Linked DNA regions of Homo sapiens: region 2 is linked to region 1. The links come from fine-mapping of genetic effects on gene expression. Tissue or cell type: subcutaneous fat. Region 1 holds a variant in brackets; the other region holds the start of a gene. All regions are shown on one strand. Distances are from middle to middle.

What was found. PIP is the estimated chance that this variant, and not a neighbour inherited with it, causes the effect.
Region 2: it holds the start of TEX26-AS1, and the variant in region 1 is the best candidate, but not a certain one, in a credible set for the expression of TEX26-AS1 in subcutaneous fat (GTEx, PIP 0.65).

What each region holds. Positions count from the first base shown.
Region 1 is chr13:30,891,400-30,895,797 of GRCh38, forward strand. The region is part of intron 2 of TEX26-AS1 (TEX26 antisense RNA 1); the gene reads right to left. Among named protein-coding and RNA genes, the nearest start is that of LINC00545, 11 kb to the left of the region's middle. The variant T/C (reference allele first, on the strand shown) is at 2,375.
Region 2 is chr13:30,930,233-30,934,630 of GRCh38, forward strand. TEX26-AS1 (TEX26 antisense RNA 1) reads right to left here and starts at 2,376. Exons shown (of 4, transcript NR_038287.1): 1 at 1,014-2,376; 2 at 569-642. It overlaps TEX26 (testis expressed 26), which reads left to right and starts at 2,424. Exons shown (of 7, transcript NM_152325.3): 1 at 2,424-2,544. The coding sequence starts at 2,484.

The sequences.
Region 1 (4,398 bases):
AGAAAATTGATATTTCTAATGTTCTGATACTCTTTTAAAGTTTCACAGAGTTAAACGATTATAGTATTTACATGTCAAGTCCTGCCATGACTTGTTAGGGAGGGTCCTTGTTTTTCAAATCTCTCTCTCTCTTTTTTTTTTTTTTTTTTAAGATGGAGTCTCACTCTTGTCACCCAGGCTGGAGAACAGTGGCGCAATCTTGGCTCACTGCAACCTCTGCCTCCCGGGTTCAAGCGATTCTCCTGCCTCAGCTTCCTGAGTAGCTGGGATTACAGGCGCCGGCCACCACACCTGGCTAATTTTTGTATTTTTAGTAGAGACGGGGTTTCACCATGTTGGCCAGGCTGGTCTTGAACTCCTGGACCTCAGGTGATCCACCTGCCTCGGCCTCCCAAAGTGCTGGGATTACAGGCATAAGTCACTGCACCTGGCTGTTTCAAATCCCTTTTCTATTGCATATATCCACAGTTTCTGCCGTATTTGCCTTGAGAATGGGGACCTCTGAGGTAGAAAGTCATGCCAATTGTTTCATGTTGTGATAAGTACTCAGTACCATCTGAATACCTCACAAATATTGAATTATATTCTTCTCAATGTCTAAGTCTCTCTCTGGCTGTATGTTAGAATGTCCTTTCATTCAAATCTTTTGGGGACCATTAGGAGTTGAATTTTACTATTTTAGCATGTATTATAGTAGATCAAAAATCCATACTTCATGAGTGAGGCAATATATAGATTTGAGATTCTATCAGATTGCAAAGTAACAAGAAAGTAGAAGGAGGATCACCCTGTGGGAATGAGGGACCAGCTAACCAAGCAGTCAGAGAAAGAGCCTGAATTGTAGTTCCCCAGGGATGGAATGAAAGAAGACACAACCAAGAAATTTAGCTCTTTAGATCTAATAGAAACCTCAAAGAATTAGATTCCAAGAATTGATGGATGAAAATTGTTTCAGGATTTAAAAAACTCAGCAAGGTTCCATTTCCTCTTTTCATCCTTGAGTACTGGAAAGAGCAAAAGCTTTTGAGTGAGACAGAGCAGGGTTCAAATCCTAACTCCAACAATTTAGGCAAGTAACCTGCTCTCTCTGAGAGTCATTTTTCTTATCTAGAAAATGGATAGTATTTACCTTAATAGGTCCAGGCATATAGGAAATGATAGCTGTTATTCTGTACTTTTTATATAAGTAGGACAAACTTAGAGTCATGAAAAAAAGTGTTGTCACACTTATTTTTTTTTTGCTTTTCTTAGAAGAAAAAAAGGGTATATCTTCAAAGTGTTCAATAGCACAGAAAGAAAAAAGAAAATGAAGGGCACATTTTGTAGAATCAAGATTTTTTCCTCAAATTCAATCATAGCCCCATAATGAGCTAATGAGGGTGGGACATTGCTCTCTTGTATCTCTCATTGCTACATTTACTAGCTTTCATCTGAGAAAATGAGGGAAGCTTTAGTTCACATACTTGAATACTGTTCCAAATGTCTCACGTTTCTGATAATGTCCTTCAGGACCCTGAGCAAACTAACTATAAAAAAGATGAATGACTGTGGATTATTCAGTAGGTTCTTGGTATCCTTTCAGAAATGTTAAGAACAGCTCCTTAACTCTTCACTCATAAACTTGGTGTTGTTTCCCCTTGGGTAATTTCTCTCATCTTTGAAGTTGAGTCCCATCAGTTGTCAGTGGCATGATTTATTCACGTCCAGGGCCAATGGAAGAAGCACAAGGGTGGGAGGCTGTTAGCTCTCGCCAGCGCCCCCTCTGGCCACTCCGGCAAAGGCCGCCAAGTGACAGCACACTGAATTCCTGTGCAAGGCTCTGGTGTGGGTGGAGGCGGCTCTGAGCAGAGCCCAGAATGTTGGAACAAGAGTGGGGTGGCCTGGCTTGCTGCTTCTGAACCTATCTCATCCTCACTACTCTGATTAGAGAAAAAAAAAAGGGAGAAGGCTTGCAAGTACTGTGCAATAGAGGTGGTAGTTTTACATAAATCTAAAAAATTTGGCCTGAGGTTTATGGAGAATCAAAACAACTTAAGGAATGCATTTTTTTCATATAAAATACCTGATAATTAACCTCTTCTTACTTTTTAAGTTATTAAACTTGAATCTTGGTGGGTCTTTTTTTTTGGCAGTATTAAGTCAAATCTGTGATATGTATAAAGTATCACTGACATGCTCAGAAAATACCTTTATCCTACACCACCCCCAATGGCTCCCAAGTGTGTGACTTAGTGAGTTCATCAGTTCAAATCAAGGAAACTTATTGCCGAGTATTCTCCCTTCTTGGGAGAACTCAAATGTTTCATTCCTGTGTCTCACTTCTTTCTCATCCTGAAGCTGAATTTAGTCATAATTGTTATACTGCTATAGCATT[T/C]GACACTTTTCGAAACATGTTTATTCACAATATTACAAGCAGAGGAGATTTCACTGTTTTTGCTTTTTAGAGGAGAACATTGGTATTCAAAGAAATAGACAAATTTTTGGGGCCGGGTGCGGTGGCTCACGCCTGTAATCCCAGCACTTTGGGAGGCCAAGGCGGGCGGATCACGAGGTCAGGAGATCGAGACCATCGTGGCTAACACGGTGAAACCCCGTCTGTACTAAAAATATAAAAAATTAGCCGGGCGTGGTGGCAGGCGCCTGTAATCCCAGCTACTTGGGAGGCTGAGGCAGGAGAATGACCTGAACCCAGTAGGCGGAGCTTGCAGTGAGCTGAGATCGCACCACTGCACTCCAGCCTGGGCAACAGAGCAAGACTCTGTTTCAAAAAAAAAAAAAAAAAGAAATAGACAAAATTTTGTTTAATCTATCTATTACAGTCTTGGATACTGATAAATTTATAGAATCACTGAGTCTAGAGAAGAAACCACACATATCAGCTTTTTAGTTGCAAGTTAATTTTGAGATAAGTTCAATCTTAAAAAATCAAATTATAAATGCATTGGAAGAAAATTTTTAAAAATATTGTTATGATTTGGGGGAAAATAGAGAAAAACTTTATAACTGGGGATCTCAGGACAAAGTCATAGTGAAAAATATTGCTAGACTCAAGGGCTTAAAACACACACACACACATACACACAGATTCAAAATTTCTGAATGGTAAAAAATATATTCTGATATATTTTGGAATTTATCAAGCAGAAAGGCAAATGATAAAAATTTTAAAAGGTAACATGTTTAATATATAAAGAGTTCTTGCAAACAAATAAGGAAAAGATGTCTCCATATGTTAACAATGGATCTAAATTGCAAATTCACAGCAGAAAAAATAAAAATGGCCAATAAACATAAAAAGTTTTAACCTTCCTGGTAACAAATTAAAAAAATTAAAACAATAAAATTCTCCAACGTGGTGGGGAAAAATAAAATAGAATAATAATACACAGTTTTGGCTAGGACTTTGGGAAATAGGTAACTTCCTGCTATGGTTTTGGGAATTTTAGTTTGGAGATCAGTTTGACATTATGTATCAAAATCCTTGAAAAAGAGCATAATATCTGATCCAGGTTAGGGGTGAATTATCAGCCAGTAATTGGACAAGTTGCCAAAGATACAAGTGCAAAAATGTAAATGGCGGTATTTTTATTTTAATCATGAAAAATGAGAAACAACTTAAATTATTGGTAATATGGGGTCATAGATGTCATAATTAAGCCATAAAAAGAAAGGCTACCAAATACAGTACCATGAATAGTTTGATGTAATTTTATTCAGGAAAAATGCACACATATTAGTAAATACACACATATATAAATATATGTCATAGTGTACATACAAATTATATATATTTCTATGTGTGCATGCATATGTGTGTATATATATGGAGAGAGAGAGACAGTGCCAGTCTTGGTTCTCAGTGCTTTACATATAACAATTCATTTAATCCTCCCTACAACCCCAAGAAGTGAGTGCTGTAATAAACTCCATTTCACAAATGAGGAAACTGAGGCGGAAAGAGGGAAGCACTTGCCTAAAGTCACACAGCTAATGAATGGCAAAGCCAGGATTCGAATCCAGATATTGAGGCCCCTAAGTCTTCCGTCCTAAGCACCAACCCAGCTGCCCTGGGTGACATAGGGAGCTCTATGCCCTCTGCTCTAAACAGATAGACAAAGGCTTGGGGGACGCACAGTAACTGGCATTCAGTGCTTACCTCTGGGTGGTGGGATGATAGAGGGGACTTCTGTTTATTATTTGAAAAAATTAAATCAATACTTTCTGATTTTTCTGCACTTACAAATCACTTAGTGGTGAAGCAAAACAAGTGTTTTTGTTTTGTTTAGTTTTTGAACTACAAAGTTTAGAAAACATGGATTTCTTCCCTTGTCCCGGTAACTTACAGGCCAAAATAGGATTAAGGGAGGGCTGGCCTAGCTTTCCCCACTCCATCTCTCT
Region 2 (4,398 bases), 39 kb after region 1:
GACACACTTTACAATATGGCAATATTAAACTACTAAAGGTCTTGGGACTACACACAGTGTTCCATGCCTCTGGGCCCTTGCGTTACTTTGTGTCACCTGTCACCTCCCCCTATTCACCTGGTTGACTCCAAGCATCCTTGAGGACCCAGCTCAGGCACCTCCTTTTCTAGGAAGTTGTTCACTATAATAATCAGGGTGTTGCCCCGATGCCATCATACAGCTCATATTCAGTGCACAGTCAGTATTTGTTGAGGGAGAGAAGAAAGCAGGGGGGAAATACTCTACTTAATCATTTAGAAGGGTTGCCTCAGGCAACCAGAATTCAAAGGCAGGAATAGTGCTATACCGCTAGCCATAAAATGGACCCACGCAAAAATACACTTTGAAGTAGAAAGACTATAAAAGGAATGAAGATCAGAATAGCAACAAGAGCAATATCTTAGATTTGTGTGATTTTACAATTTATAAATTATTGTTAGAACTCATCATGTTTACAGCACAGTGAGGTGGGTGCTGGTATTCTCATTTACAGATAAGGAGACCAGGGATCAGGGAAGGATTTGCTTACCCCTAAGGGCCTGCAGTGACAGAAAGATCCTTTGGCTCTCTATTTGGTTCCTACCGCACCATTTCACAGCTTGCCTAAAATGAGACAAATTGTAAGATATTAATAAGAATTCACTTTCAAAATTCTATATACTTGCTGCTCTATTTTAAACATATATTTCTCTTAAATTATGCTATGCTAATTAGCTCTACCATTTCCAGACAGTAATCTGTTATTGGGTGCTACTTTTTAAATTTAGATGCCACTACTAAATCCTAATTTAGACTCATTCCTTTTAATAACATCTATGCCTTCTAATGTGTTCCACCCTCCATTGCTTCAAAACATGAGAGTTTATAATGTGTTATATTCATTCCATTATATGGATAGAACTCTACCTTCAGGAAATTCTAGTTTAGCTCTTCATTTTAAAGACATTCCTTGCACATATATTTGGGATCCTTACCTTGATGCTTTTTCTGTCTCCTTTGATAAATTCCTCCTTTGTCACACTGCACTGTTTCTCTGAGGTCTTGTATTAGAATAGCCCCTTAAGAATAAGGAACTGTTGTAAATTGCTTTGTAAACAGGTTGCCAGCCAACTCCAAAATGTATTTCCTGTCTTCTCTTTTCACCCAAGTGGGTAATAACTGTGTTGTAACCTGGAGACAGTCAGTAGTTACTAACCACCTAGTATGTCAAATTACCAGGTAAGGTTATCCAGCAAAAGGGGCTCACTGCACTAGAAGCCAACACTATGACACCAAGTTTTTGAGAAAAGGAAAGCTTCACATTGCAAGTTAACTTCTGAGGAAACAAAAGTCCAGTTCAAATCTGTCTTGTACTGGCTTTAGGGCAGTAATTTTATTACAAAAGGTTTAGGGTTGGATCCTGGGGTTAGCAGGTGATTGGTGGAAGCAAAGGGAACATCTGGGAAGTCTTCAGGCATGCATGGCTCTCTCTTCATGCTTCCTGGTGGGTCCCATGTGCAAATTTGGAGGGAGTTGGTATGAAACATGCAGTAGAAATTCAGGCTGTGACATCAGCAAGCTTGCTGTGCGCAAACTGCATTTGGCCATATTGATTCCGGCTGATTTCAGTCAGTTTTGTTATAAGCAGAGGGAGTTTCAGCAAATTGTTTCTTTTCTTATCTGCCCCTGAAAACAAGAATTTCTGTTAGTTATTGGTGTCTTTGACTCTTTGAAACAGTTTCAGTAGTTCCCAAGATATGAAGATAAAAGACCCCCTTCATCAGTGAAAACTCTTACAAGGGGATGAAAGACACAGCTTCCTCTATGAGAGCACAAGAACAATTAAATTGACCCTCACAAACACTATGGTTGGTGCCAGGAACGTGGCCTGGTGAGGAGGACAGTGTCACATCCTCCCTGCCCACTCCTGTTTCCACGCGTGCATTTCCTCTTCTGCCCCTCTCCTAAGCCAGGATGACCCTTCTGACCGCGTGGAACTATCACAGAAACTGCTTCCATTTATACCAGATGACTTGGGATTCAGTCTTCTTGCTTGGTTTTTATTGACTGCAAAAATCCATGACAACTTTGCGCACATTTGCTTAAGCTGAAAGCAAATGGATGAAAGTTTGTAGTTGAAAATCTACTTTCTCTTCAATCTCTTCCCTTTTTGCTTTTCTTAGGAAACATACAAGACAGTGGTCCGGAAAGCTCACTGCAAGAACTGTACAAATAATGTAAAAGTAAGGCATCCATAAGATCAAAGCCACATTTCTTTGCTCTCTGCACCCCATTCCCGCGCCGGCCAGGTTAAGCCTCCTGCGTGGCCAGCACCCCTTGGCAGGGGCAGAACTCCCTGGAACCCGATCCTTGTCTCCATGGCGACGCGTCACAAAGCAGCCCGCGGCTCCCGCAAGCGCTGAGATAGCTGGAGCCAGGGCCCCGCGGCCGCCTCCTGGGGCAGAATGGAACAGCCTGGGCCCAGGGCTCCGGATCCCTCTCTCTGCCACCACAACCTCCAGCCAAGTAAGACAGCAGACTCTGCCGGTCTGCGGGGCGGGGCTGGGGTCTTTCCCGGGGAAAGGGTCCTGTTGAGAAAAAGGGGCCTTAGTATTTAAGGGTGTGGCATCGCTCTTAGGAGTATGCTCAACTGAGGAAAAGACGGGGAGTCAGGGAGAATGACAGGGCCTTCATGACGCTGCCCCTTTTCAGTCCTTCGCATAACCTTTGCCAAATCCCCGCTCCCTAAAACGCGCAGGGTTTTTAAACACTCGAGGAAGTGCCTGGCTAAGAGGGGACAGGAAAAAAGGAAGAACTGGTGATTTTCCAAGGAAAACAGGGCCAAAGGCAAAGAAGAAAGAGAAGTCCTGGAAGCTCTGAAGAGAACAGGTCCTGCCTGAGTCCCGATCCCCATATAGGATCTTGGAAACAGCAAGGAAAGTGGGGGAAGGGTTGGCTGCTGAATGGAGTCCCAGCTGTGTCTGCAGAGGCAGACGCCCTCCCTGGGCTGTCGCACCAGGCTGGGAGCCATGGCCTTCAGCTGCCGCCTCTAACCTGAATTGATTTTTCTTCCACAGAGATTTTGTATTTCACAGAGGTAGTGCTTTTCATCCTAATTCTGCCCACAGATGCAGCAGGTTCACCAGTTCAGCCTTTTGGGTCTGTGGAGGGAGAACCACTCTAGCTGTGACGCTAGTGGCATGATTACCGTGTAGTCAGCTCCATCATAGTCTCTTGTGGCAATAATTGGCCATTGCTGCTGTATAGTTGGGTAACTGTGATTCCACAGTGGCTATGGAGCAGTGAAGGATTGTTCAAGTACAAATTCCCTAGAATTGTGCTCCCAAAAGAGTGAATGAAATGCATATTTTCATTCCAATTCATTCCGTTGTAAATTAAGAATGGAAAATGAAAATACTTAATTAGTGCAGAAAATATCTAATACACTCAGTTTCTATATGATGGGAAGGCAAACAGGAGAGACAGAGGAGGGAGGATCCCCTCCTAGCATCCCGACAGCACCCCTTTGGATGCTTCTCTTCCCTTTCTAACCACCCTGTTTTCCCACTGTCTCCCCATTTCATCCCCTTCTTGTCTGGGAACTGTTGGAGTCCCCCAGGATTGATCCTTCTAGGCTTACCTTCTCTTTGTGACCATATCCTGCACAGGGCTTCAAGTGCTGCATAAAGGTGCCAACAACTCTCTAACCTTTATCTCTGACTTGGACTTTCTTCCTACTTTTTCAGACCAGAATATCTAACTGTCTACCAGACAGTTCCATGTGGGTGTCACAGCAGGGCCTCCAACTTGACATGTGCAAAATCACACTCCTTGTCCTCCTCAAACCTTCCAGACTTTGAGAGTTCAGTTAAGAGGGTCCTAGCTGCTCAATTTAGAAGGGAAGGCAGCTTCCTTGAGACTGCAGTTTGATCACCAGGTCTCTTTGATTCTGCCTCCAAAGCTCTTTTTCCCCCAGGTGAATTCGCCCCTTTACCTCCAGGCTTGGGCCTCTAATGGCTACTCTGTGCCACTTCATTCCCCACTGCTGGGAGAGTCACCCTCCAAATGGTAGGCTTGATGTGTCCCCACTGCCCAGGTTTGGTCCGAAATAGGATGAGGTTGATGGTGACTGATGACTAACTGTTATTGAATAATTACTACAGATGGGGCTCTCAGGTGTTGTATTAGTTTCCTGTGGCTGCTATGTGTTCCCACAGACTGGTGGATTCAAACAACAAAAATGTATTTGCTCACAGCTCTGAAGGTCGAGAGCCTGAAATCAAGGTCTGGACAAGTCTGCACTCCCTCTACAGGCCCTAGGGGAGAAGTGGTCCTTACGTCTTCCAGCTTCAGGTAGCCATCGGCACTGCTAGTGATGGC